4 linked regions of the Homo sapiens genome follow. The protein of the gene in region 2 purifies or fractionates together with the protein of the main gene of each other region. This does not show direct contact. Each region holds a gene or a part of one and is shown on either strand. Other genes may lie near its edges. The genes, in order: PDS5B, SLC30A4, CIP2A and PDS5A.

The links.
Region 1: the proteins of SLC30A4 (region 2) and PDS5B purify together in Homo sapiens (affinity purification with mass spectrometry; 5 studies listed by BioGRID and IntAct, with this or other methods). This does not show direct contact.
Region 3: the proteins of SLC30A4 (region 2) and CIP2A purify together in Homo sapiens (affinity purification with mass spectrometry; 4 studies listed by BioGRID and IntAct, with this or other methods). This does not show direct contact.
Region 4: the proteins of SLC30A4 (region 2) and PDS5A purify together in Homo sapiens (affinity purification with mass spectrometry; 5 studies listed by BioGRID and IntAct, with this or other methods). This does not show direct contact.

What each region holds. Positions count from the first base shown.
Region 1 is NC_000013.11:32,764,444-32,771,468, reverse strand, and holds part of PDS5B (sister chromatid cohesion protein PDS5 homolog B), read right to left. Parts: intron 6,981-7,025; coding exon 6,875-6,980; intron 1,349-6,874; coding exon 909-1,348; intron 819-908; coding exon of another isoform or gene 816-818; coding exon 708-815; intron 1-707. UniProt on the Homo sapiens protein: Regulator of sister chromatid cohesion in mitosis which may stabilize cohesin complex association with chromatin. May couple sister chromatid cohesion during mitosis to DNA replication.
Region 2 is NC_000015.10:45,484,746-45,491,770, forward strand, and holds part of SLC30A4 (probable proton-coupled zinc antiporter SLC30A4), read right to left. Parts: intron 6,943-7,025; exon of another isoform or gene 6,839-6,942; intron 6,137-6,838; coding exon 5,983-6,136; intron 4,298-5,982; coding exon 4,096-4,297; intron 2,888-4,095; coding exon 2,782-2,887; intron 2,001-2,781; coding exon 1,866-2,000; intron 573-1,865; coding exon 418-572; 3' UTR 1-417. UniProt on the Homo sapiens protein: Probable proton-coupled zinc ion antiporter mediating zinc import from cytoplasm potentially into the endocytic compartment. Controls zinc deposition in milk.
Region 3 is NC_000003.12:108,551,427-108,558,451, reverse strand, and holds part of CIP2A (protein CIP2A), read left to right. Parts: intron 1-1,037; coding exon 1,038-1,234; intron 1,235-3,962; coding exon 3,963-4,076; intron 4,077-4,721; coding exon 4,722-4,804; intron 4,805-6,078; coding exon 6,079-6,218; intron 6,219-7,025.
Region 4 is NC_000004.12:39,974,897-39,982,548, reverse strand, and holds the start of PDS5A (sister chromatid cohesion protein PDS5 homolog A), read left to right. Parts: upstream 1-4,637; 5' UTR 4,638-5,092; intron 5,093-5,280; exon of another isoform or gene 5,281-5,301; intron 5,302-5,931; 5' UTR 5,932-5,971; coding exon 5,972-6,109; intron 6,110-7,652. UniProt on the Homo sapiens protein: Probable regulator of sister chromatid cohesion in mitosis which may stabilize cohesin complex association with chromatin. May couple sister chromatid cohesion during mitosis to DNA replication.

The sequences.
Region 1 (7,025 bases), on a different chromosome or scaffold from region 2:
AGAAGACATGCTACTCTATTTCCACTCACATAACTAAGGAGAAAAAACACTGTCAGATCTGCAAATTACAGCAGTGATACTCTGGTGACACTAAAATTTGAGGTACAGATTCTTACTGTACCTCTCTTATAAATGTGTTTGTGTGAACATCTAAAACTATATACATGTTGATGTAGATAAATGAACTGGGTTAGAAAACAAACAAAATCAAGATATCAAACACTTGAGACCAACATGTGTTAATTTCTATGGATATAATTTTTAAAAAATGGTACCTGTTACTTTCCTACTACAAGTTCAAAGAATAAAAGCAGAAGCATAAGACCTATTTTCCTTTTTTTAAAGGAAAAGGTGCTAATGAGAAACATTTAAAAAAAAAATTGTAGTGTGGAATGACAAGGCAACCTGGTCAATGTGTGGTGATTATTTAAAAATACCTTATGATTTCTTTAGATATCATAAAGTCTGTATAGGAAATAATATACTATTTGGTATTCATTTATGAAGATTTGCCTGCACCTGTAAAAATGTACAAGATAGTTTATTGAGATATCAATCACTAAGGTAAGTTTATAAAAATTTTATCTTACCTAGTGTAATGGGGCTAAATATATGGAATTTAAATACAGCAATATGTATGTTTACAAATTTAGGAACTTTTGCAAAATAATTTGAAATTGGTTTGAAATGTAATATTTACAACTTACACATTTTTTTTTGGTTGTGATGGTGATGGCGTTTTTGATGGTCTTCCTCGTCCTTTCTGTGGTGTGGACTGTGTGGATTCAATTGCACTAGATTCAGGAGATTCTGCTCTGCTTTGGGGAAGACCCAAATGTGGATAGCATCAAATTATGATTTATAATATAGTAACGAAACAGATGCAGTTTAGAGTTACACATGCTTACCTCTGCTGTGCTCTCCTTGACACTCGGTGCTGTTTGCTTTTGGACTTCTGTTCCGTATTTCCACTTTGTCTTTCTTCTTCTTCCTCCTCCTCTGGTGCTGGAGGTCCAGATTTTTTTTTGCTTCCTTTTTTAGAAGTTTTCATTGTTGGCTCTTCTTTTGGTGTACCTCCACCAAGAGGTTTTGGTGGTCGGCCTCTTTTACCCTTTTTTGGCGGACTATTCTGTTCATCTTCATTTTCTAATATATCTTCTTTGAGCCTCTTTTCCTCAGGCCACTGCTGTTCATCAGATTCTGAAGCCGTATGGCCTCTTTTCCGACTTCGCTGACTGCCTTTAGGTTTCTGTTCCTGTACCAACTTAGTCAAGTCATCCATACCTAATTTCTCCTCCTGTTCTGTGACGGGCGTTTTTTTCCTGCCTCTAGGCTTCTCCAATTCAGACTAGGGGAAAAAAAAAATCACAATTTATGGTTATGAAATTGTGAGTATACATATTTTGAGGAATGAAACAAAAAAATCTGTTATCTAATGTTGTCCTAGATATGTACCTAAAATATACAGCTCTTAAATACACCAGAACTGTATTTATTTGCTTTTATTATAGTTTTTAATTTTAAAAACTTATCTGGGATAAAAGGGTACATTTGCACTCTTACTTTTCAGCTAGAGTGTCTTAAAAGGAAACCTCTCAAGATCAGTATCTTACTAAATTATAAATTTTAGTGAAGAGCTATCTCATTAAAAAGAGCATTATAAATTCAGTGCTTGGTCCTAAATGACAACTATACTAAAGTATCTGTTTGGATAGTCAATTTAAGTAATTCTAATTTTACCACATAGTGCGTAAGACATAAAATATTAACTATATGACATGCTTACAACATCATAAAAGAACTATTATTTTACAAATGGAGGTTGCAAGATACAAAAGGTAAACATATTCATCATTTATTATAAATTTTGGAAACACTTCTGAATTAGAAATACTGCTTCTTTCTAGGTATAACTAACTGATTAACAACAGAAACAACAAAAAACCAGTGGCTTTCACATTTAAAATAAAATCCTAGTCTATATTCAGAGAATCTATATGTGAACCAGCGTGAAGGCTGAAGAAATTCTCCAAAGACCCAAGAATAAATTGTATGTATGAACACTTATAATACAAAGTTAATTTCCAAAAGTCTGCGCAATTTATATTTTCAAAAATCACTGAAAACAACAAAAACTATCGAATTATCTGTAACTTTTTCTAACTTTAAATTGAGCTTCCTGTATGTGAACTGCCTAATTACATCCTTCGTATTGTGTCCTTTGTCAACTTTGACTACTGCGGTGTTAGTGGGTTTTCTCTATATTCCTCTATGCTTTTGTGTATGCCTCTATGCTTATTTTTAAGTGTTATTTCTTTATTATTAATATTATCTTTTATTATTTTTGAGATGGAGTCTCACTCTGTCACCCAGGCTGGAGTGCAGTGGCACCATCTCTGCTCACTGCAAGCTCCGCCTCCCAGGTTCACGCCATTCTCCTGTCTCAGCCTTCTCCCGAGTAGCTGGGACTACAGGTGTCTGCAACCACGCCTGGCTAATTTTTTTTTTTTTTTTTTTTTTTGTATTTTTTTAGTAGAGACGGGGTTTCACCGTGTTAGCCAGGATGGTCTCAATCTCCTGACCTTGTGATCCGCCCGCCTCGGCCTCCCAAAGTGCTGGGATTACAGGCATGAGCCACTGCACCCAGCTTTTTTTTTTTTTCTTTTTTTTTTTTTTGAGACAGAGTCTCGCTCTGTCACCCAGGCTGGAGTGCAGTGGGTCAATCTTGGCTCACTGCAACCTCTGCCTCCCGGGTTCAAGCGATTCTCTTGCCTCAGCCTCCCGAGTAGCTGGGACTAGAGGCATGTGCCACCATGCGTGGCTAATTTTTGTATTTTTAGCAGAGATGGGGTTTTGCCGTGTTGGCCAGGCTGGTTTCAAACTCCTAAACTCAGGTGATCCGCCTGCCTCGGCCTCCCAAAGTGCTGGGATTACAGGTGTCATTGCACCTGTCCTTTAAGTGTTATTTCTTACTTGCTTTGGACTGAATTGTGGCCCCCACCACCAAAGAAAAAAATTGTATGTTCAAGCTCTAATCCCAATGTGACAGTATTTGGAGATGGGGCCTTTGGGAGGTATTTCGTTGAGATGAGGTCATGAGGTGGCACCCTCATGATGAGATTAGTGTCCTTATAAGAGGAAACATCAGTGAGCTTGGGTGCCTTTCTTCTTCCTCCCACCCCACACCTCTCATGTGAGGACACAGGAGAAGGTGGCATCTGTAACCCAGGAAGACAGCCCTCATCAGGAACCAAATCTGCTGGCACCTTGATCTTGTACTTCCAGCCTCCAGAACTGTAAGAAAATATAGTTCTGTTGTTTAAGCTACCCAGTCTGTGGTATTTGGTATTTTATAATGGCAGCTTGAGCTGACTAAGACATTATTGTGTATTGTTTTAGAACAGAATGTGAGATGAGATTCTAAACTGGATTTTCCACTCCCAAAGACACATCCAACCATTTCAGAATCAATGATTTGTAGTGCTTCCTTTATTTTATATGTTTTGAACAAGAATAATATTTCTGGGCTATCATAACAGAAGCACAATATTTTACTAAGTATAATTATGTATCTGGTAGGGCTGAACCTACCTTTATTTCTCCTCCTTTTATATTTATTTATTCCTCCACATAGACTTGAAACAAAACCATGCTGGAATTTTGCAATTATATATTCAGTTGAAAAAAACTTTCATCCTTTTTTATTCCTTTCTCCTATACAAGAACATGGCCTGTCTTCTCTCTCTTCAAGTCTTCCAGTTTTGAGATTTTCTACATATAGGTCCTCCCTATCTCAGTTTTGAGATTTTCTACATATAGGTACTCCCTATTTCTTTTAAAGGTTATATTTAAATCTATGAATCTGTCAATCAGTCAATCTATGTTTGTTGTTGCACTGGTTCTTGTGATGAAGAAAATAATCCCTTTTCCCCTAAATGTACATCTGATACAAACCAAAATTATCAGAGTAATGTTAGTTACAAACATAAATATATACATAGGTAGGGATAGATTTTCAATTGCTTCTTTTATTTTTCTAAGATTACAAAAATAACAATTGGTCAAACATTCTAGAGCAATTTTTAAAAACAGTGGTGACAGCAGGTTGCTTGTTTTGTTCCTGATTTTTAAAAAGAATGCTTCAAGTATTTTGCCTTTAGGAAGAATGGCATTGACTACTGATTTAAAATAGACAAAACTTTTAGCACATTAAAGATGTATCCTTCTGGTACTAGTTTACTAAAAGTTCCTATTTGTCAAGAACGGATCTTAAGTTTTATTTATGTCCTCTTGGCATGATCTGAAATTATTTTGTTTTTGGTTTTCCCTTTGGTTTATTTAATATACTATCATAGTAAAAGATTTGGTAACATTAAGCTATCCTTACATTCTAAGGAGAGGGGAAGATCTATACATGACTGGATTTAGTTTGTTTTATTTATTTAGAGTTTTGTGCACAAATTAAAAATTAACTGTTTTTACTCAAAGATAAGAAGGTAAAAGAAATGTTAAATTAGAACTAAATTTAAAATGTCACTTCTTATTTTAATTACTATAATTCTTTTTGATGTCCAAAGATCTAAAAAGGTAGATGATTTCCTTTAAGCTCTGGAAAAGGTTGGTGGTAAAAAGAAAACCCAATGTCTACTTTCTTGAGAATACTAATCTAGTTTCCTAAAGCACCACTACTTATTTCTTTTTCATTTTGCATTGCACTGTTTTAAGAACAGAGGGAGTATAAAACCGAGGTTAGAAGCAAAAGACAGGAAAATATTTTATTTATAAAGCTAAATATTTAAATACAAACGTATATGGAAAATAATTCCTTTGCTGTGAAATTTCAATGAGAAGCTGGTAACAAGCAAATGAGACCGTGCTCTTTCATTATAATCTACTGGTCTTTAAATTCAACTTGTGTCTCATAATACTCATCTCTCTGAGGGCACTTCAGTCAAAACTAGCTTATTAATAAGATTCTTCTAGCACCTCTAAAACTGGACCTAACGTTACACATTATCCATGCCACAACAAATAGCAAAAGGCCTCCATTACAATCATACTAATAGGTCTCAAGAGCTCAAAAATTCAAAACAGTTCTATGAAAAATAGAGTAGACTTTGTTCTGTACTATCCCAAAAGGTAAAAGCAGATGCAAAATTTATAGGATAACAGAATATTAAGAATTAATAAAAACCATGTTTCCCAACTTTTGGGGGATGGGAACACCAAGGTATAAGTGTAGTACACTATAGGTGTGGGTATGAGTGACCTAGTTGACTTTTCCAACAAATGAAATACATCATGAGCTCTCTGCTTAAAGCATTTTCAACGTGGTGACCAGCTCTCATTAATAATAAAGGAATTTCTGCAGTAAGTGAGAACTAAGAAGACATAATACCTTTTCCAATTCAAGGATTTTCTTCTGTAAATCCAGATAACAAGATTGTTTCCAAGCTAAGTGATCAATTCTTAATTTTGCTCATGTGAAAATTTTAAACAGCCAATAAACATCGTAACTTACAGTATACATAGTTAGAATTCAATAAAATTTTAGAATAATTCTTTCACAGCGGGCAGTATGGCTCAAGCCTGTAATCCCAGCACTTTGGGAGGCCAAGGCAGGCAGATCACCTGACATCAGGCGTTTGAGACCAGCCTGGCCAACATGGTGAAACCCCGCCTTTAAAAAATACAAAAATTGGCTACGCATGCTGGCACATGCCTGTGGTCCCAGTTACCCAGGAGGGTGATGCAAGAGAATCACCTGAACCCGGGAAGCGGAGGTTGCAGTGAGCCCAGATCGTGCCACTGCACTCCAGCCTGGGCGACAAAGTGAGACTGTGTCTCAAAAAACAAAACAAAACAAAACAAAAAAGAATAATTCTTTCTAAATGGAAATAAACACTCTGCCAAAATAAGTTATTGGAGAAACATGAAAATAAACTTCTTGGCATGTGTAATGCTGGACTCGTGGAAGATGGGCAGTAATATTTTAGAGAAAGTAAAAGTAATTATTTCTTGGTTAACCTCTCACCTCTCTTAATCACGTAGATTCGAACATTTTAACTTTTATTATTATGATAACCATAATCAAAAGTCGTAACAATGAAACAGCAGCAGCAATTCATTTTGGCTAAGTCACTTACTCTGATAAAGCTTACCAGCTAAGTATCCATAATTTACATACAGATAAGAAAATTGATTCTGATAGCCTAATTAGTTATTAAGGAAATGATCTGAAGCTGAACTGTAAAGTCAAAACAAACCCAGTTAAGTCCATTGAGTTGTGTTAGAAGACATAACTGTATTTTGTGTCTATGCTAAAACTTAACAAATTTGTCTTAAAACAACACAAACTGTCTATCATACAAGTTATCATTTTATCATTTCTATTAAGATTTAAAAACTGAACAAGGACTTGACGAGAACTATAGCATTTTCTACCTTTAACAGCAGCTTATTTAGTAAAAGGCTCAAGAAATAAATTAAATGAAAGAAGTTTTAAGGGTCCTCATTCCATTCCCCTTCTCTAAGGCTAAGTCTAAATATCCTATGTTAACAAAAACAACAACAACAACAAAACCACAAGCAAATGAGGAAAACAATACAAAAACCAAGCAGTTGAGTATGCAACTGGCAAGTCTAATACCAAAAATCTGAACAATTGAGATTACTTATCACATTGATAAGAAGCACAGATTCTATATACTTAAATTACATAGAGGATAATTATAAACTCAGGTTTGTGGTTAAAACCACTAAAATAAAATAAAATAAAATGTAAATTTGATAGTCATGTTAACTGGTTTCAGTGTAAACATTACTAAGTAAAATTATCATTAATATTATTATAAAATCAATGCAAATATCTCACCCTTACAAGATCAGAGTCGTCTCTCTTGTCACTTTTTTTCCCCGGCAAAGGTGAAGACATTGTGTAATCTTCATTTTCACTGTGATCCATTTCAGAACTATCAAGCCTTTTAATACAGACATTTGTAATTGTTATTACAATCAAATAACCT
Region 2 (7,025 bases):
CGAGATTATTATACATAATAAAAAAAATTCAGTTTTCCAGCACTGGCTTAATATAAAATGGCCTTAAAAAGTATTTTTAAATGCAAATATTGAATTCTTGATGCTTCCTTTAAGACACGTACTCTGTCAAGTTAATGAAGTATGATCTTGGATTGTCTTCTATGAGGTATCTGTAGAGTCACATCTCATTCTGTAAACAGTGTTTGGGAAACATCTTCATCTGAAAATTATGGCAAAGTCTCCTTTTACCATTAAACAGAGACTAGCACTGTCAGGCTGGGGCAACTGTTTGAGAGACTGATGCTTGATACGGACACAGCTGTCAGGGATTCCATTTTCTCATTTAGGTTTGCATTTATTGCTCTCAAGTCTGTGACTGCAGGATAAATAAGGCAGGAGTTCCCAAAATACATAAAATTAGGGACTAGAACTCTGACAATTTGCACAAGTTCTGTCCACTTCTTGCCTGTAACTCTGAAGCTGAATAGTACATCTATACATGCCAAATGTGTTCAATAATAAATGGTTTGCTTTGGACTGTACTTCCTCCCATTTAGATGAACTTCCAGGAACTGCAATGTCAAGAAAATATCATTACTATCCATTGTACAGTTACATCTTGAATAAGATACAGGGAAAAAAACAACTGAAATATACTGGGAATATATTTTTATTAGTCTGATTTCTACCCTCTCTAAGCTATTCTGTTAGATAAGTAGGTCAATTTACACATCCTTAATGGCTTCTCATTATTCTAACCTCTCCAGTCTACTCTCAGGTAGAGAAAAAATACCAGACATCAGTTACAAACCTGTCATTAAAATATCTTGTGCACATTAAAAGTAAACCTCATGCATGTATTATTTTGATTTAAAAAGCATCAATAGCATCAATCTGTGAAATGACTTGAAGAAATAAAAATGTAAGAATCTAGCTTTTCCTATGTAGAAAAGAGCATGGGAAATATTCTTTCTTTTTTTTTTTTTTTTAAGATGGAGTTTCGCTCTTGTTGCCCAGGCTGGAGTACAATGGCGCCATCTTGGCTTACTGTAGCCTCTGTGTCCTGAGTGCAAGCAATTCTCCTGCCTCAGCCTCCCGAGTAGCTGGGATTACAGGCACGTGTCACCACGACTGGCTAATTTTTGTATTTTTTAGTAGAGATGGGGTTTCATCATGTTGGCCAGGCTGTTCTTGAACTCCTGACCTCAGGTGATCCACCCACCTTGGCCTCCCAAAGTGTTGGGATTACAGGCGTGAGTCAACGCGCCAGGCCGGGAAATATTCTTTTTTTTTCCGAGATGGAGTCTTGCTCTGTCACCCAGACTAGACTGCAGTGGCGCAATCTCGGCTCACTGCAACCTCCGCTTCATGAGTTCAGGCAATTCTCCTGCCTCAGCCTCCCAAGTAGCTGGGATTACAGGCATGCACCACCACGCCTAGCTAATTTTTGTATTTTTAGTAGAGACGGGGTTTCACCATGTTGGCCAGGCTGGTCTCAAACTCCTGACCTCAGGTGATCCACCCGCCTCAGCCTTCCAAAGTGCTAGGATTACAGGTGCGAGCCACCATGCCAGTCAGGAAATATTCTTAATACCTTTAATCTGAAGGTTAAAATCAGTTTGTAATATCTCAAAGAGATAGAAAATTATTGTTCTGGTATCAATACTGACCTGCAACTTACCCTTTAAAGAGCCTTTTGTTTAAGGCTGTTAACAAAAGCCTTTGTTTTTTAAAGACAAAGGCTTTTGTCTTAAAACAAATCTTTTCAGCAGAAAAGTCTTCCTACATAATTATAAGCAGGGATGTTTAGTTTCAAAGGCAGAAGTCCACCAACCCCAGGCCCACATTTACTACCAGCAACATACTTAGCTGTATGTGAACTATGGCAGTAGATTTTCCTGAAGTGAGAGACCAGATATTTAAATCTTCGACTGAATATACATCTTCTATTTTCATCAAGGCTTCTTTGATATAGTCTACATTCAAATGGCTTGGCACACCTATTAGGAATATATAATTTCTAAGTAAAATTTATTTTGGAAATAAAGGAACTTTTACATTACCGATGACATTTATCAAAGAAAACAAATGGCTTTGCTAAATTCACTTTAAACAAATACTTTAAAATATTAATACTTCAAGATAAACCATGTACACATATATTTTTATTAAAAATGTAAGATATATACAAGAGGGTAATACATACTTTAAAAACATATTCATTCTCACTAAAAAGGAATGCCAATCAAACCAGAATACTTCATTAACAGATAAACTAAGAAAAAAAAAAGGAAAAAAGAAAAGAAAAGAACATATAATGATAATAAGCCTATTGTTAAGAACTTTTATTTTCATGCTTACACATAATATCAGTAAGGGAAGAATGCAGTAAATACAACAAAGTCACAAGTTAAGTGGGAATTAAGGAATTAATACATAATCTAGAATTGCATTTTTGTCCTAGTGCCACAGTTTATTAGCAACATGACCTTAACCAAAGTATGTTATCCCTCTGAACCTCAATTTTCTTATTTGTAAATGGGGATAATTTACCACATTATCTGCCTTACCTACTTTGCTTAGCTATTATAAGTGTCAAATGGGTAAAAGATGGGAGAGTTCATTAATTCTTACATGTTACATACATGTAAGGTACTGTTATATAGCCTAAAAGGTATTAGTAAAAAGCAAAAGATGTAATTCCTATTCAGAATGTCCCCTGACTCCCAATCTGCTTTAGGGAAGTAATAAACTCATAATGAGGATATAGTGAGATCTTACCTTCTAGTATTATAACTACTGTATCCCATATGATTCGAAATGTTGTAAAAGCCACAAGTAATGAAAATACGTATGTACAGATGGGGTCAGCAATCTTGTATTCTGGCTAAAGGGTAATAGATCAAAATTTATGATTAAATAGACAAATATAAAACAGACTGCAAAGCAAAGCAAGGAATATGTCCCTTCTTGCTTGATTTTCTTTAGCAGAATTACAGAATACCTTTAAAACTTGGATATTGTAATTGAAAAGCATCTTCACTCTATCCTAGACAGTTTACGTTACTTGCCTCATGGGACCTATTTCCAGAAATGTAATCACTTGTTCTATTGTTCCTTGTGCCATCTCTAAATGTTCTAGAATATCAGAGCTGGAAAGAAGTAAGTGTGTGTGTGTGTGTGTGTGTGTGTGTGTGTGTCAAAGCTGGAAAAAAGTGTGTGTGTGTGTGTGTGTGTGTGTGTGTGTGTGTGTGTGTTGCCCAGGTTGCTCTTGAACTCCTGGGCTCAACTGATCCTCCAGCCTCAGCTGGGATTATAGGCACAGCCACTGTACTCAGCTCTGGAAAAAGTTTTAGCAGCCACTAGTTTAAGCCCCTTGTAATAAAGAAGAGGGAACTCAAGTTTAGAGTTCAGGTATTTGCTTTCAAGGTCAAAGCATTAATGGCAGAGCCAAGACTAGAACCCACTCAGATCTCTGGATTTTCAGTCCAGTGCACATTTTACTACCTAGTAATTCAATCACGAGTTTTAAAATTGAGTTATCTGGGCAATCATGGTGGCTCATGCCCGTAATCTCAGCACTATGGGAGGCTGAGGTGGGTGGATCACTTGAGGCCAGGAATTCGAGACCAGCCTGGCCAACATGGCGAAACCTTGTCTCTACTAAAAATACAAAAATTAGCTGGGCATGGTGGTGTGTACCTGTAATCCCAGCTACTTGGGAGGCTGGGGCATGACAATCACTTGAGCCTGGGAGGCGGAGGCTGCAGTAAGCCAAGATTGTGCCACTGCATTCCAGCCTGGGCGAGAAAGTGAGACTCTGTCTCAAAAATAAATAAATAAATAAATAAATAAGAAAATTGATTTATCCAGTGAAGGCACTACAAAAGCCAAATACAGATAAGTTACCCTGTGACGTGATATCATTTTGTTTACTGCTAACAAAAGAACTATAATGATTGTCAAGTAAACTTACATCAATGTAAAATGAATAGAACTGGCACTGGTGTCCAGTATACTGATATGACAATCAGCCTTAGTTTTCATGTTGAAATTAAGTACATTTTAAAATAGAAAAATTACCAATCATATTACCTTGAATCGTATGATGTATGCAGCTATTAGCACACCAACACTCTGTACCAAATCTCCCAAAGCATGTACAAATGCAGCTCTCACTGCCAGGCTATCCTGCCCATGGTTACGTTCACACCCAGAACCTCTGGTAGGGGAATTTGAAGGCAGGGAGTGGGAATGGGAGTGACGGTGACCAGACTGGTTCAACAGAAACCCCATTCTGTTAAAAATAAAAGAAAACATTATTATTTTTCCCAATATTGACAAAAACATTTGTCACTAGTCAGACACTAATGAGGTAACATGGAACTCATTTATTTAATAAATTTGGAGCAACTATTATTTATCAGTACTGTTCTAGGTACTTGGGTCAAAACAGTGGTAAGATAGACATATCCCTACCCCCATGGAGCTTATGTTCTAGTAGAGAAGGCAGAGAAGCCAACAAATAAGTACATAAGGTATAGCCAGGCAATGTGAAATGCTTTGGAGAAACATAAAGCATTGTAAGGGGATGGAGGATGATGGGCAGAGTGGTAAGGGAAGGCCTCTCAGATTTTCTCTAAGCAGATACCTGAAGGAGGTCAGAGAGCAAGTGGTGGAAGAGTGTTCTAGGCGGAAGAATAGCAGAGCAAAGGCCCCAACATGAAAATGTGCTCTGTGTACTTGAAAAAAGAAAGCAGCCACTGTGGGCCAGAATAAAGTGAGCAAAAGTGCTAGGAGATGAGTGGTAGAGGTACACAGAGTCTTACTAACAAGGCTGCAGTAAAAATTTGATTACATTCAGGGACTGTTGTGGGGTGGGGGGAGGGGGGAGGGATAGCATTAGGAGATATACCTAATGCTAAATGACGAGTTAATGGGTACAGCACACCAACATGGCACATGTATACATATGTAACAAACCTGCACGTTGTGCACATGTACCCTAAAACTTAAAGTATAATAATAATAAAATTTAGAAAAAAATTCATTTCATTCTAAGTACAAATAGAAGCCACTAGGGCAGGGATTGGTAAACTGTGGCTGGTAGATCATATTTGGCTCACTGATTTTTTTTTTGTACATAAAGTTTTATTGGAACACAGCCATGTTCATTTGTTTACATGCTAAGTGTGGCTGCTTTTGTTTTATAACAAGTGTTGAGTAGCTTTGAAAGAGAATATATAGATCTCAAAGCTTAAAATATTTACTATCTAGCCTTTTACAGAAAAAAAATTGCTGACTCTGGTCTAAATGATTAAATCTGTTAACTTCAACTTTATTATTTTTTGTTTGTTTGTTTTTAAGACAGGGTTTTGCTCTGTTGCCCAGGCTGGAGTGCAGTGGCCCAATCATAGCTCAATGCAGTCTTGATTGCCTGTGCTCAAGTGACCTTCCCACTTTAGCCTCCCAAGTGGCTGGGACCATAGGCACGAGCCACCGTGCCTGGCTAATTTTTATTTTTAGAAGAGATGAGGTCTCACTATGTTGGCCAGGCTGTCTTGAACTCTAGAGCGCAAGTGATCTTCCCACCTTGGCCTCCCAAATTGTTGGGACTATAGGTGTGAACCACTGTATGTGGCCTAACTTAAACTTTCAAAACTTTCTTCCCTAAAAAGTTTTAAGGGAAAAAAATTGATAGCTTAAGAAAAAAAATCTAGTTAACACAAAAGTATTCTAAAAGTTAAACAAGAACAAAAAACTTTGTCCTACTTAAATTCATGATTTTGACTCAATCTCCAATATACCTGGGCAAACTAATGAGGAATTTATAACGTCCATAGTGTTTCATTTATCAGAAAAGTTAATGAGTTATATCATTTTTAAAATATCAAAATATCACTGAATATTACTGAATGCATATGCAATAGTCTCTGAGTTCACAGTACTTGAAAATATTAATGTGAAAAAAATAGAGCTTACATTACATTAACTGCAACTCCAACAGCTGCGGTGATGAGCATTATATCTCCATTTATTTCATAGTTCATATGGATAGTTCTTTGCACAGCTTCATATAAGAGGAATCCCATAAGTATATACACCAACAGCACACTAATCATAGCTGACAAAACCTCTAGAGGGAAAAACACATATAACAAATACATTTTCAGCATGGTTACTACACTTCATACCAACTAAATATTATATAGTCTTTTTTATATTCTTTCCTCTAAGGAGATAAAAGCCCTCTATTGTTTCTGTCACGTCATTTTTCTTATTTATTTTTTTGAGACAGGGTCTCACTCTGTCACCCAGGCTGGAATGTAGTGGCCTGATCATGCATGGTTCACTGCAGCCTTGATCTCCCAGGCTCAAGTGATCCTCCCATCTCAGCCTCCAAGTAGCTGGTACTATAGGCACATGCCACCACACCTGGCTAATCATTTTTCTTATTTAAAATGTGTTTAGCACTTACAGAAAAAAAAAGTGGTTAGCAGCTTGACTGATATGGATCCTCCACTAATTTACCCTTACCTCTCCCTACCCTCCACTCCTCTCTCTCCAGGGTCAAATTATGTATATTTACAGACCATGCACAAGGTAGAAAATGACAAAATGAGAAAAAATATTTGTCACGTATGTGATCACAGACTAATTTCTTGATAGAAAAAAGTACACTCAAAAGTCAGTAACAGGTAAGGTGTGGTGGCTCATGCCTGTAATCCTCCAACACTTTGGGAGGCTGAGACGGAAGGATCACTTGAGCCCATGAGTTTGAGATCAGCCTAGGCAACATAGTGAGACTCCGTCTCTCTTGGTTTTTCCCTTCCCTTCATGTCAAATGGGTAATGTGCCAACGTTGTAACAAGGTTCCAGGGTGGCACGTCTCACACATGTATGTGAACACCTAATTATCAAGCTCATGAACTACAAGAGGATCAAGACTCTATCTCTAAAAAACACATTAAAAATTAGCTGGACATGGTGGTGAGCACCTATGGTCCCAGCTACTCAGGAGGCTG
Region 3 (7,025 bases), on a different chromosome or scaffold from region 2:
AGTGAACTTACTGCAGTAATATGAAATTCCCAGCAGATACAAATGGAATCTATACAACTTGATATTATTTATAATGAATGAATTATAATAAAGTGTTCCTGGCTTTTGAAAGATGCATCAAAATAAGTGACTAGTAAAATGCCTCTTAAGTCTCTTCAGAATAATGGTATTCTTTTTTTCCCCCATATTTCTTTCTTTTTTGCTTATTTTAACATGGTTTCATTTGTCTTAACTGGTATGTTGAATTTGTCACAAATTACAAGAAAGAACATTAGTGATATTAAAATAATTTTTCCCTCTCCCCATAGCACATTCTTATATTTTCTGTCTGTTGGACATGTCTTGTATTTTATTAGAGAGTTTAATATTTTATTCATGTTACTGGAAAAGTTCTTATAAAAATAGCACTAAATAACTGGATACAGGTTCTTCACAAAGTCGTAAAAACAGAGAAAGGCTTAGGGTTTTGTCTAGCATTGTAAAATAAAATCCAAAGGGCTGGGGGGAACCAACTTTTTATTCTAGCGACTTTTCTGCTTTTTTAGTGTTTCATATCACATAATAAATACATGCAGGTTATGGTATAGGTTACATTCTTTGATTATACTAGCTTAATTTTAAGTGTTTGATTAAGCATCTGTGATGTCGTTAAGATTTTGTTCTTAATTCTCACCTGAAATGAGAATGCTGATGGTGTGCACACTTAGCAGTTTAGTGTTAATGGCTACCTCTGAGGACCATACCTTTTTAATTGAATACTGTATGTAGCGCGACCTTCATGTTGCTGCAGTTGTATCCATTTCCATTAATTTGATCATAGTGAGATTGTTTTTATCAGATAATGTATTAAGTTAAAAAAATATAACAGTATCCAACTTATTAGAAGTAAAGTCCTAAGTATATGTGACTAATACAGCTTTGCATGACCCAACAGATACCAGCTTATTAGATACTTAGTAAACTTTTAAATTGTAGGTATGTGTTGAGCATATGATATAGATGATAGTGGTAAAGTCTATCTTCTTTTTTTTTTTGAGGCACGGACACTTGCTAGTATGTTGAGAGAAGTTGAGAGAAAAAATGAAGAGCTTAGTGTGTTGCTGAAGGCGCAGCAAGTTGAATCAGAAAGAGCGCAGAGTGATATTGAGCATCTCTTTCAACATAATAGGAAGTTAGAGTCTGTGGCTGAAGAACATGAAATACTGACAAAATCCTACATGGAACTTCTTCAGAGGTAAATAAAGTAAAATCTTCTGTGTAAGGTTAGAACCTAGAATGAACATGCAGCATTTCTTTTCTGAGACCCGAAAATCCTTTTGTAAGCATTTCATATATTCTGATAACACATGAGGTAAGTAATTAGCAAGAAACTTAAGTCATTGTGAAATGAAGTGTTGCTTCCTCAAACTCAGTATCAATGTTGGAAACAAAATACAGGTCTTTCCAGTTGACTTCTTTTATGTATTCATAACAGTCAGCAGTCATTTGGGAGATAAGCTCCACAAGGACAAGTTTGTCTGTTTTGATCACTGACAGATCCCTAGGGCCTGTAGGAGTGCTTGCTGCATAGTTAGGCACTTCATTAATAATTTTTAAATAAACTTAGTTGTCAAATTAGTATTAGGTTGAATGGTCATTTCTGCAGATCAAAAGTAGTTGAATATTGGCAATTTCATATCATTCTGCCTAATAGAATGGAAATTTAGGTGTAAGTGTTTAACTCATCTCTTAATATCCTTGATTATAGTTTACTTCCATGTGTGATTACATCTGTAGAATAAGTTCACATAGGTGAATTGCTAAGTTAAAGGGTATGTATATTTAATATTTTGATAGATATTTCTAAATTTTCCTCCAAAATGTGATACAGATTGAGTGTCCTTTTTGAACACAATGGTAGCACTCAAAAAGTTTAATATTTTGGAGCACTTTTGATTTTAGACTGATTTTGGATTTTCAAATTAGTGTTGCTCAACCTGTACCAATTTGTGTGCCTACTAGCAAAGTTTGATTGGTTTTTCCTCCCTTATAAACTCTTTTATCTTTTTAGGCCAGTTGTAAAACTTCTGAATTACAGGGAAGACCAGGAACAATTATGTATTTTCTACCAACCCATAAAAGTAAATACACTCTGGGGGAACTTGTTTATTGCTTTATATTTTAAGATTGTTCTATGTTGTTAATACAGAGATATAGAAATTTTTAGCTTGGCATGGTACATATGCTTATTTCCCATCAATAATAATGAAGGGTGAGAAATGAATAGTATCTAGAAAATGATGACAAAGTGATTTTTTAACAGGATATTTACCCCAGCAACTTTTTACAAAGTCTGATTGTTTGAGGCACCACTGATAAAGTGTAGTATTAGTGATAAGCCAAGTTGAGAACGTCAGCAGTGAAGAAAATACGTTATAGAACTGAAATGGGTTCCATTTGCTCAATACAGTAAAACCAGGTATCTGCACCAAGGTTTGCAGTGATAGAAAAAAAGGCTTTTACTGCAGGGTGCCAAGTAAGGAGGAGCAGGCAGCCAAATGCTCAAATACTGACCTCCCCAATAGCTTGCAAGCAAGGATTTTTAAAGGCGAGTAAATTTCAGGAAAGTGGAAGTTACAGACAAAAATCATAAATAAATAGTTAAAGGTTATACATTGGTTTAAGTTTAAAGGACAGGATATTGTGAAGCAGGGGCTTACAGGTCATGGGTAGACCCAAAGATTTTTCGATTTGCAGTTGGTTAAGGAAGAGCAGCTTTGTTTAAACATTTGGGGTCAGTAGAAAAATGTTAACTAGCTAGGGAGAGTGACTTTGTTCAAGACCCTGAGAAAGAAACTTAGAACAAAGAACAGTGGTTAAAATTCAGCCTTCATTTTCTCCTTACCTGAGCTCTACTTGTCAATGGATCTGGTCAGTGGGCTTCCTCAATGAGGGTCCGGGTCTCTGAAATACAACTCAGGGACATGTGTTAAGTTGTTTTCTTTAAGTTCTATAAAGAATCAAGTATCACTGGTACTCTTAAGTTTGTTAACTTTGATTTAGGCTACTATTACCTTCCTGTTTAACAAGTTACTTATTTACTTCTAGGGCTATCTAGGTCCCTGGAATTTCCCTTGAGTGAACTCAGGATTTTCCTTTATTTTCCAGCTTGAGGTCCTCAGACCTCCTAAAAAGGGGATACCTGCTTTGTCTCACATAGAGAACCTAAGAGATAGGCAGCGTCCAAGAAAAATACGTGGTTTCTAAGACCTGCTTATGTTCCAGCTAGTGATTTAGGGGCTAGAAGGTGAAATTCCTTGAATGGACAAGTGGATAACATGTAAATGAAGCTGGCTGGGGAAAAGGTCATTTGTAATGGTCAGGACTGTCTAAAGGCACTCAAACTCAGATTGTTAAAATTCCTGTATGGATTAGATACAAAAACTGCTGGCCAAGTTTGGCTACTGGTTTTTTTTGTTTGTTTTGGTTTGGTTTTTGGGTTGCTTTTTAAAAATCTTTGTGCTTAGTGAAATAAAAAAGACATTTTATGCTTATGGTAGTTGAGTATCAAAGTATTACTTTAGAAAGGATTTTTTTCTGTGTTTACCTTGCAGGTAAAATACTTAGGACTATTAGATGCAGAGTTTTAAAGAGACAAATGTAGAACCCTAAACTTATTTATAGCAAATTATGTAATGCAATATCATCTGTAAAATAAGGCTTTATATCCATAAATATGAGATTAATGCCCCACACATTTCTATTTCATAGTAATTTTTACCACATCAGTCAACCAAAACATGTATTTACTGCCTTTTAGAGTAGATGAAATTCTGTTTATGTCCTGCTTGTTCATAACATTCCTTCTCTTCCAGCATATGCAATTTGGTTAGAAGAGATAGTAAAGAAAACACTGTGAGCTTCTTTTCTCCTTCATATGTTTTCCTCCATAATGATGCCAACTCATTTTCTTGTCTTTTCAGAAATGAAAGTACTGAAAAGAAGAATAAAGATTTACAGATCACATGTGATTCTCTGAATAAACAAATTGAGACAGTGAAAAAGTTGAATGAGTCACTCAAGGAACAAAATGAAAAGTAAAATCTCTAGTTCTATATTCTGAATATGTGGGATTTTTCAAAAACAAAATGATTCCCTTTATATAGAACATTGTTTTTTATTGATAAAATTAATAGAATTGTCACTTATTTTAGATATAAGATATGTATTTGGTGGAAGTTACAGGCAATTGCTGTTCTTAGAAATTTTGTTTTAAAGGCTGGGCATGGTAGCTCACGCCTATAATCCCAGCACTTTGGGAGGCTGAGGTGGGTGGAGCGCATGAGGTCAGGAGTTTGAGACCAGCGTGGCCAACATGGCGAAACTCTGTAAATACTGAAAATACAAAAATTAGCTGGGTGTTGTGGCGGGTGCCTGTAATCTCCGCTACCCAGAAGGCTGAGGCAGGAGAATCACTTGAGCCCGGGAGGCAGAGGTTGCAGTGAGCACAAGATCATGCCACTGCACTCCAGCCTGGGTGACAGAACGAGACCTTTTTTTTTTTTTTTTTTTTTTTATATTTTTAGTAGAGACGGGGTTTCACCATGTTAGCCAGGATGGTCTCGATCTCCTGACCTTGTGATCTGCCCGCCTTGGCCTCCCAAAGTGCTTGGTAGGGAGAAAAAGTTACAAATGGTATATGGTTCATTAATGTTTTCTTCTATTTTTTTTAATAACTTCAGAAGTATTGCCCAATTAATAGAGAAAGAAGAACAGAGAAAAGAAGTACAGAATCAGCTAGTAGACAGAGAACATAAGCTAGCAAGTAAGTGGCTTCTTATTTAATACATTTTCTATTTTTAATGTATTTATTTTGGAAGCATGAGTGGTTTTGTTTGCTTTTTTATTTTCTACTTATTGTTTTAAACTTTAAATCATATTTGGAATGGCTTCCCTTTTCTTGACATAATGTTTCACAAAAGCAGTTCGGTTTAATCAAGTTGAAAAAGTGGTACGTTTTTTAAATTTAGGAGCTATAAGAAATTGGCCAGGCACAGTGGCTCACTCCTGTAATCCCAGCACTTTGGGAGTTGGAGATGGGTAGATTGCTTGAGCTCAGGAGTTTGAGACCAGCCTGAGCAACATGGTGAAACCCCATCTCTACAAAAAATACAAAAATTTAGCCAGGTGTGTTAGTGTGCACCTGTAGTTCCAGCTACTCAGGAAGCTACAGTGGGAGAATCTCTTGAACCTGGATGTCAAGGCTGCAGTGAGCTATGTTCACGCCACTGCACTCCAACCTGGGTGACAAAGCAAGACTGTCTCAAAAAAAAAAAAAAAAAAAAAAAAAACAAAAGGAAAGAGATGATTGACCATTTAATTTAATTTAATTTTTTTATTATTTCAACTTTTAGAATCAGGGGGCATGTGTGCAGGTCTGTTACACTGGGTATATTGCATGACACGGATGTTTGGGGTATGGATCTCATCACCCAGGTAGTAAGCATAGTACCAAATAGGTAGCAATAGGTAATTTTCAACCTCCTGCCAACTCTAGTCTGCAGTGTCTATTGGTTCCATCTTTAAGTCTGTGTGTACTCAATGTTTAGTTCCCACTTAGAAGTGAAAACTTGGAGTATTTGGTTTTCTGTTCCTTCGTTAAATCACATAGGATTATGGATTGCCCTTTTCAAAATAAAAAAATGTTGAAGGAACGTAACAGCAGGTGGCAGTATTAGGTAACTTTTAGTTACTAGCTTCTTAATGGTATATTTGAAATGATCCTGAAAAACATTTTTGTTCTCACTTGCCTTAGAGCGCAGGCACCTACCTATATAATTTTTCATAGTTGTAGCTCTCCCTTTTCTAACCCTTACACTTTTGAGAATTGTCCTTTACCTATATAGCATATTATATTTAGAACAGAGGATGGAAGAAAGACATGGAGATTTGGTATTTTCTATAGAATACTGTCATAAGAGAAGTTTCTCTTCCTTGTTCTAGTTATTTCTCTTTTGCTCTTACAGTAGCTACTAGACCATTTCAGAGTAGTCAGTGTAAGACCTCTGAGTATAATACTTGACTTTTTTTTCTTTTAAGATTTGCATCAAAAAACAAAAGTACAAGAAGAAAAGATTAAAACCTTACAAAAGGAAAGGGAAGATAAGGAAGAAACCATTGATATCCTTAGAAAAGAATTAAGCAGAACAGAACAGATAAGAAAAGAGTTGAGCATTAAGGTAAGAATCTGTTCCATTTCTCATTTGCAGTAAAATAAAAAAGTCTGTTGTGAAAAGGGTGAATATGGATAAAGGAATGTACTGTTTCTTCAGCAAATTTTTTAGAAGATATTAGGATCTCAAAGCAGCTTGAGTATCATTTGTTATGAGGTTTTCATAATGTATTTTCTAAAATAGTTAAGCAGTTATTAAACAGATACTTTGTGTCAGCACCTGGTATTTTCAAGTGTGCAAAGAATACAGAAAGGGGTTACCAGTACTTGATGTCATATATAGGTAGCTGTATAATTTTCACTTTAACAAATATTATATAATGTGTTAATAAATATTTTCAACTTACAACTGAAGAAACTGAGTCTGAGGTTACTTACTAAAGTCACACAGCTAATAAGTGAATCAATAGGTATATATTCTGAATCTGAGTCCGGGGTTCTTTCTATATTACCATGGTTGCATAGCTTGAGTGGTAGCTATGAATTGTACTTTCTGGCCCGTTTACTACCAGGAAGATGAGAACAGACTAGGATTAAAGACTGATCTACTACTACTACTGAGTAACAGAAGAGGCATAAAATTTAGTACCACATTTACAGTTTTTCTGGTTCTGCTTTAATGTGATTATCTTATTAGTAATTTTAATATGTAGTGTGTAGTATTTTCTGCAAAATTTCAGCTGCTGGCATTAACTTAAGACAAGTTGAAAGTGTATTCTCAATTTGTATTATATTGTTTAATGATTATTCATTTTAAACTTACCATGTAATTGAATTAACTGAAGTATAATATTTATAGTATGTCTTGAAATGG
Region 4 (7,652 bases), on a different chromosome or scaffold from region 2:
TTCACCAGGTTGGCCAGGCTGGTCTCAAACTCCTGACCTGAGGTTATCTGCCTGCCTCGGCCCCCCAAAGTGCTGGGAGTACAGGCGTGAGCCACCGTGCTCAGGTCTTTTTTTTTTTTTTAGACGGAGTCTTTCTCTGTCGCCCAGGCTGGAGTGCAGTGGTGCAATTTCGGCTCACTGCAACCCCTGCTTCCCAGAGTCAGGCAATTCTGATGCCTCAGCCTCCCAAGTAGCTAGGACTACAGGTGTGCGCCACCCCACCAGGCTAATTTTTGCATATATATATATATGCAAATATATATATATATATTAGTAGAGATGAGGTTTTGCCATGTTGGTCAGGAGCTCTAGAATTTGTATATAGAAGGAGCTGTAGTGAAATTGGGGGTTAGGGGTTTGTCCTCAAATTGCATTGGACGCAATTTTGTACATAGATTATATAACTGAATGTATGTGTGAGGGGGACACTGATTGAAATTATGTGGGAGGTAGAATAAAGACTCACAAAGCCACCCCTTTGTGCAATTATTAACCACATAAAACTCTTTGATTTTTTTATTTTATTTTATTAAAAAAAATTATGTAGAGCTTAGTATATGCGAGTTACTATTCTAGGCATTTTACAAATATTAACTTATGGCCAGGCGCAGGGGCTCACACCTGTAATCTTAGCACTTTGGGAGGCCAAGGCGGGCGGATCACCTGAGGTCGGGAGTTCAAGAGCAGCCTGGCCAACATGGTGAAATCCCATCACACTAAAAATACAAAAAATTGCTGGGCATGGTGGTGCGTGCCTGTAATCACAGCTACTAGGGAAGCTGAGGCAAGAGAATCACTTGAACCTGGGAGGCAGAGGTTGCAGTGAGCCGAGACTGCAACACTGCACTCCAGCCTGGGCGACAGAAAAAAAAATTAAGTTATGTATTCCTCATAATGATCATGTGAGGAAGATACTATCATTATCCTTGTTTTACAGATGAAGAAAATGAGGCACAGAAGAATTAAGTGGTTTGACCAACATTGCCTAACTCAGGACATACATCATATCACCTCTTTGCTTAAAACAGTCCATTAGTTCCCCACCTCAATCAGAGGATAGCCACAGTCTTACCAGAGGTCTAAAAGGCTACATGTGATCTGTACTCTCTCTCACTCCAGGGAGTCTCACTCTGTCGCCCAGGCTGGAGTGCAGTGGTGCTTTCTCAGCTCGCTGCAACCTCCATCTCCCCGGTTCAAACGATTCTCCTGCCTCAGCCTTCTTAGTAGCTGGGATTACAGACATGTGCCAGTGCGCCTGCCTAATTTTTGTATTTTTAGTGGAGACAGGGTTTCACCATGTTGGTCAGGCTGGTCTGGAACTCCTGACCTCAGGTGATCCACCCACCTCGGCTTCCCAAAGTGCTGGGATTACAGTCCTGAGCCACCGTGCCTGAGCCACTGAGTCTAATTTTTTGTCTTTTTAATAGAGATGGGGTTTCACCATGCTGGCCAGGCTGGTCTGAAACTCGTGACCTCAAATAGTCTGCCTGCCTCCCCCTCCCAAAGTGCTGGGATTACAGGTGCGAGCCACCGTGCCCAACTCTTCCCTACTTTATTTTCATATACATGTATTATTGTTATTTTGGTCTATTTCTCCCCAAACAAATTAAGGTCCACCAGGAGGGCAGGCCTTCATTTGTGAAACAATTATTTAAAGAGGCCTATAATATAAGGCATTGTTTTGGGCACTGAGCGGGGAAGAAAAGCTTGGTGGAGGTTGGGTGCAGTGGCTCATGCCTGTAATTCCAGCACTTTGGGAGCCCAAGGTGGGTGGATCACCTAAGGTCAAGAGTTCGAGACCAGGCTGGCCAACATGGTAAAACCCTGTCTCTACTAAAAGTACAAAAATTAGCCAGGCGTGGTGGCGCATGCCTGTAGTCCCAGATCTTGGGAGGCTGACGCAGGAGATCTGCTTGAACCCAGGAGGCGTAGGTTGCAGTGCGCCCAGATTGTACCACTGCACTCCAGCCTGGGCAACAGAGCAAGACTTCGTCTCGAAAAAATAAAATAGGCCAGGCGCAGGGGCTCACACCTGTAATCCCAGCACTTTGGGAGGCCGAGGCGGGCAAATCACGAGGTCAGGAATTCGAGATCAGCCTGGCCAATATGGTGAAACTCCATCTCTACTAAAAATATAAAAATAAGCTGGGCGTGGTGGTGTACGCCTGTAGTCCCAGCTACTTGGGAGACTGAGGCAGATGAATCGCTTGAACCTGGGAGGCAGAGGTGAAGTGAACCGAGATCGCACCACTGCACTCAAGCCTGGTGATAGAGTGAGACTCCATGTTAAAAAAAAAAAAAAAGAAATCAACCAGTAAGGCCAGGCACGGTGGCTCAAGCCTGTAATCCCAGCACTTTGGGAGGGTGAGGCGGGCAGATTACCTGAGGTCAGGAGTTTGAGACCAGCCTGACCAACATGGTGAAACCCTGTCTCTACTAAAAATAACAAAAATTAGCCGGGCATAGTGGCGGGCGCCTGTAATCCCAGCTACTTGGGAGGGTGAGGCAGGAGAATTGCTTGAACCCAGAAGTCAGAGGTTGTAGTGAGCCAAGATCACACCACCACACTCCAGCCTGGGCGACAGAGGGAGACTCTGTCTCAAAAAAAAATTAGCCCGGTATGGTGGCACACACCTGTAGTCCCAACTACTTGGGGGCCTGAGGCACAAAAGTCGCTTGAACCTGGGAGGCGGATGCTGTAGTGAGCCGAGATCATGCCACTGCACTGCAGTCTGGGCGACAAAGTGAGACTTCATCTCAAAAAATAATAAAATAATATAAAAAATAAATAAAATAAAATATATGTACATATACAAAACTCCATTTAATAATGGGCAAGCTACTGAGGAGGATGAAAGATAAAATCATTGTTGTTTAATTAAATGTAACACACAAAGAAATATCAAATTTGGCCGGGCGCGGTGGCTCATGCCTGTAATCCCAGCACTCTGGGAGGCCGAGGCGGGCGGATCACTAGCTCAGGAGATCGAGACCATCCTGGCTAACATGGTGAAACCCCGTCTCTACTAAAAATACAAAAAAAAAAAATTAGCCGGGCGTGGTGGCGGGCGCCTGTAGTCCCAGCTACTCGGAAGACTGAGGCAGGAGAATGGCGTGAACCCGGGAGGCAGAGCTTGCAGTGAGCCGATATCACGCCACTGCACTCCAGCCTGGGTGACAGAGTAAGATTCCGTCTCAAAAGAAAAAAATAAATATCAAAAGTGACAGGGAGAGCCTAAAAAGAGAGCAGCTTTTGGTCCACTTAATAGTTTGGATGAGGACACTTTTAAATGGATTCTGCCTGGTACTGTAAATGCCCAAGAACAAAGCATTGACTTTTGGGCAGAGTTCTAGCAAATCAGCAACTGTGGAGTGTCAGATTCGCAATGACTGCTCTTGTGTAATACGTCAAAAACAAGTCAGTGAGCTGAAATGCAGTACCTTTACTATTTTTAAGTTGACGTTAAAGGATGTGGGAAAAAAATAGACCAATGGGTACCCATCAAGAATAATTTGAATAAACAATCGAATATCATTTTAAACTATGGTAGTGGTCAGTTTCAAGAGCTGAATGTGATTTCATATTATCGTATCCTTTTTTCAACTTTCTCTTCGGAAATTTTGTGTATGCTCTTGATTTTTTTTAAATAGGTAAGTGTATGTTCTTGCGTTAATTTGTTTCAATTACATACATTAAATTGCTCAAACACTGCTGCGTGCACTGTTTTTACCTGATAGTGGTTTTCCTTTGGATGACAGAAAACGTTAATGCTTGGTAGGTTTAAAACATTTTTAAAAAATGAGCTCTTCCTTATTTACAAGAATCACCCACCCAATTAATAAATGCTTATTTCTGGGTTCCACTCTCAGAGATTTTTATGTTTATGTATATTTTTATATTTTTTAGTGTTTTATTTTATATGTTATATTTTTATATGTTTTATGTTCATATATATTTTTACGTTAAAAAAACATATATTTTTATGTTTTTTAATCTTTGGAGTTGGAAACCTACGTTTTCAGCCAGTACCCAAAGTGATTGTGAGGCCTGGTGGCCCAAAGACCATACCTTGAGAACGACTCGACCCAATGCTATTTTCATGTTTTGCAGCTTTCAAAATATTAACTTCAGAAATCTAAGGAGGGTGGGCAACTCGGGTGGCTGTCAGAAGACCCGAGAGTGAGCCGCTCACGCTGCGCCCCATTGCACAACTTTCCTTGACTTTGCAGATCTCTCCCTGAGGAGGAAATCAGTTCATTTTCACCGAGCAATTAACTACCTCCCAACCAGTTTCGTCTATGTCCCTCAGGATGACCCCCAAAAGTCACCAGCTCATCGCCGCTGCGAAAGATAAAGCACTGTTTGCCCTGCGTGCCCTCGCAAGGCCGCGGGAACCTGGGCTCGCTTCCCGCCACCCGGGCTCCTCCTCCTCTCGCCCTCTCCGGTCGGGTCCTCCGGGAGGCGCCCCGCGCGGCAGGTATTGGCGCCAACCGGGTGGCGGCGCTGTCCGCCCTGCGCGCGGCCGCCTCGGGCCCGAGGGAGGCGGATGCACGGCCGGCGGAGGAAGGGGAGGGAGCGAGGAGCGCGCGCTGCTCTCGCGTGCTCTCGCGCCGCTCGCGTGACCGGCCGGTGTGTGCGCGAGGCCCCGGCTCCCGGGGCACGGACGGCCGGGCGCGCGCCTCTGCGAGGGGCGTCCGGGTCCGAGTCGGCGGTCCGGGCCGGCGCGAGGTGCGTGCGGGCGGGCCGCGGGGGTCCCGGACGGACACAAGCGCACACACTCCCGGAGGAGCCTTCGAGGCTGCTCTTCCTCGGCCAGACGGAGAGCGGCACTGTCTCCCCGCCCAGCGCTCACTCGCCCCGCGTCTCCCCCCGCGGCGGCTGCTCCTCCTCGGCACCGCCAGCCCCAGCGCCGCTCCCGGGCGGGCGGGCGGCGGCGGCGGCGGCGGCGGGACCCGCGGAGCCGCTTTGTGTGCAGCCCGACTAGGGGCGGCGGCGCAACCACCTGACAGAGGCCCGGGCGCTCGATGCACCTTCCGCCCGCATGAGGAGGAGGTAAAGGCGGCGGCGGCTCGGCTCCCGCCCTAGGCTGCTGGAGGGAGGGGACGGAAGGGGAGACTGGAGGGGGGGGCCGCGGGTCCGAGGCCCGGTGGGGCCGCCCGAGGGTGCCGGGAAGGCCTCGGCGGTGCCGGAGGCGCCAAGCGGCCGGGGGCCAGAGAAGCAGCTGGGGTCCCTCAGCCGAAGTTGAAGGAACAAAATGTGAAGTGCGGAGGCGCGTCAGCCGCTTCCTGGCGTGGGGCTGAGGGTGGAGGGCGGCTTGTTTTCCCCTCCCGCGGGGGTGAGGGAGCGGAACAGGGGAGGGGTGGCAGCGCGGCGGGGACTACCCCGGGTCCGAGGCTCGGCTGGGCAAGGGCGTTTTGTTCCCGGCAGCCGCCGCTGCGCGTGGGTCCGCTGGGTCCCTAGTTTTGCGGCCTAAGCCGAGCCCTATAGGCCTCGGGTCTGGTTTCCCGGAGGGGACTGGCCGGGCGGGACTGGGTGCTTCCCCACCGCCGAGCGGGGGCCTTGGGGTCCTTGCCGGCCTCCCGGGGCCGCCAAACTTCGGACCCTGGTGCTCGGGGGTGGATTTCATTGTGAAAGGCGGAATGGGAAACTCCTGGCGCTGTTCGGCGGCCACGGCGGCTGGTGCGGAGGAGCCCCGTGAGCCTGGGGCTGGCAGGGCCGGGTTGGCGGGGCCGGCGGGGTTCGATCCCTGGGAAAGAGCGGGTGGCGAGGCCGCTGCCGGGTCCCCGGCCTCTGGGGAGACAGGGCCTTTTCCAGATTAGAGAGATTTGAAATGAAAAAAGAGGTTACAAAGTCGCCCCTTTCCCGCTGAACTTTGGTTTTCTGACCGATAGAGGCCGGTAGAGGACTGTGAACCAAAAGTTGTCCCCCAGGATGGACTTCACCGCGCAGCCCAAGCCTGCCACTGCCCTCTGTGGCGTCGTGAGTGCCGACGGGAAGATCGCTTACCCTCCGGGGGTAAAAGAGATCACCGACAAGATCACCACGGACGAGATGATCAAACGCCTGAAGGTAAGTGTCTGGACGGATTTTGATGTCTTTGGTAGAAGGCGCTTTCTCCTGTGATACTGCTACCCTGCTCAGTCTGGCCTTTAAAGTTCCAAGTTTTTTAGATCTCTTACCCCCTCTGAAAGGTACTGTTGTATCTCAGATAACATCTTTGAGTGAGTTTTGTAGGGATATAACCATTGTGGGAAATTTAAAAGGAGTGTGATTTTTCAAAAACTTACTGGTTTTCAAGCATAAGAATTTGTGTTTTTAGAGTTTTTTCTGGAGGTATTTAATGAGAATACTGTTCAGAGTGGCTTGCAAACTTAGGTGTAGGCAGTAATTTGCCTAAGAAGTTTACTATTTTCAGCTTCTGAAGGGGATTGATTAAAGCGCAAAGTCCTTTTTAAAAATTTGCATAATTTTCTATATCCAGAAGCTTAAATATGTATATATGGTGGTTAAACTTTGACAGAAGGTACAGACTTTTCATAATTCAGGCTTAAAGTAAGATGATTTAAGTCTATACGTTCAAAGGAGTTTAAGAGTATTATGGCCCTTTTTATGAGGTGTCAGCTAATTTTGTTTAAGCATGGCAGTCCTAAGGTTAAGGTTTTAAATTTCAACCTCATGTTTGTTAGTTTTTTTGGTTTCTGTTCCACTGACATAGATTGTGGCCAGAATCTTAACAAATAAGTAATATTCTTCTTGTAGGAACAGCTTGAAGCAGTGGTTCTGAGTCAGGGCAACTTTGACCTCCAGGAGATGTTTGGCAATGCTGGAGACATTTTGGTTGTCACAATTGGTGCTAGATTGGAGTAGGGGAAGACCAGAGGCAGTGAGTCCGGCTAGGAAACTGTAAACAGTAGTCTAGGTGAAAGACGTTGAAATCTTCAGGTAGGGCTATGGCATTGGTAATAGTGACTAGGAAATGATTTAACAACTTTTCAGAGTTAGAATCAATCAGAATTGGTGGGAGGTGAGGGAAGCAACATTGTTGACAATGTTTCCACCTTGGGCCACTTGGCCAAATGTATTTTAGGGAATGAGCTTGGCCTCTTGCTCTTGGAGCCCAGTAAATGTACCTAATGTTGCATTTTAATGAGTACAGTATTTAAAATATTCCTGTGGTTTAGTTTTCAGACTCTTAATTTGGTTCTGCAATTTGTTGCCTTTTTGGAAGGAATAAGACAACAGTTCCTTTCATTAAAACAAATCTGTGTGCGGCGGCGGGATCTCAGCTCACTGCAACCTCCACTTCCCAGGTTCAAGCTATTCTGCCTCAGCCTCCCAAGTAGCTGGGACTACCAGCGTGTGCCACCACACCCGGCTAAATTTTTTTTTTTTTTTTTTTTTTGAGACGGAGTCTTGCTCTGTCACCTAGGCTGGAGTGCAGTGGCGCGTCTCGGCCCACTGCAACCTCCACCTCCCGGGTTCAAGCAATTCTGCCTCAGCCTCTCTAGTAGCTGGGATTACAGGTGCCTGCCACCACGCCCAGCTAATTTTTGTATTTTTAGTAGAGATGGGATTTCACTATGTTGGTCACTTTGGTCTCGATCTCCTGACT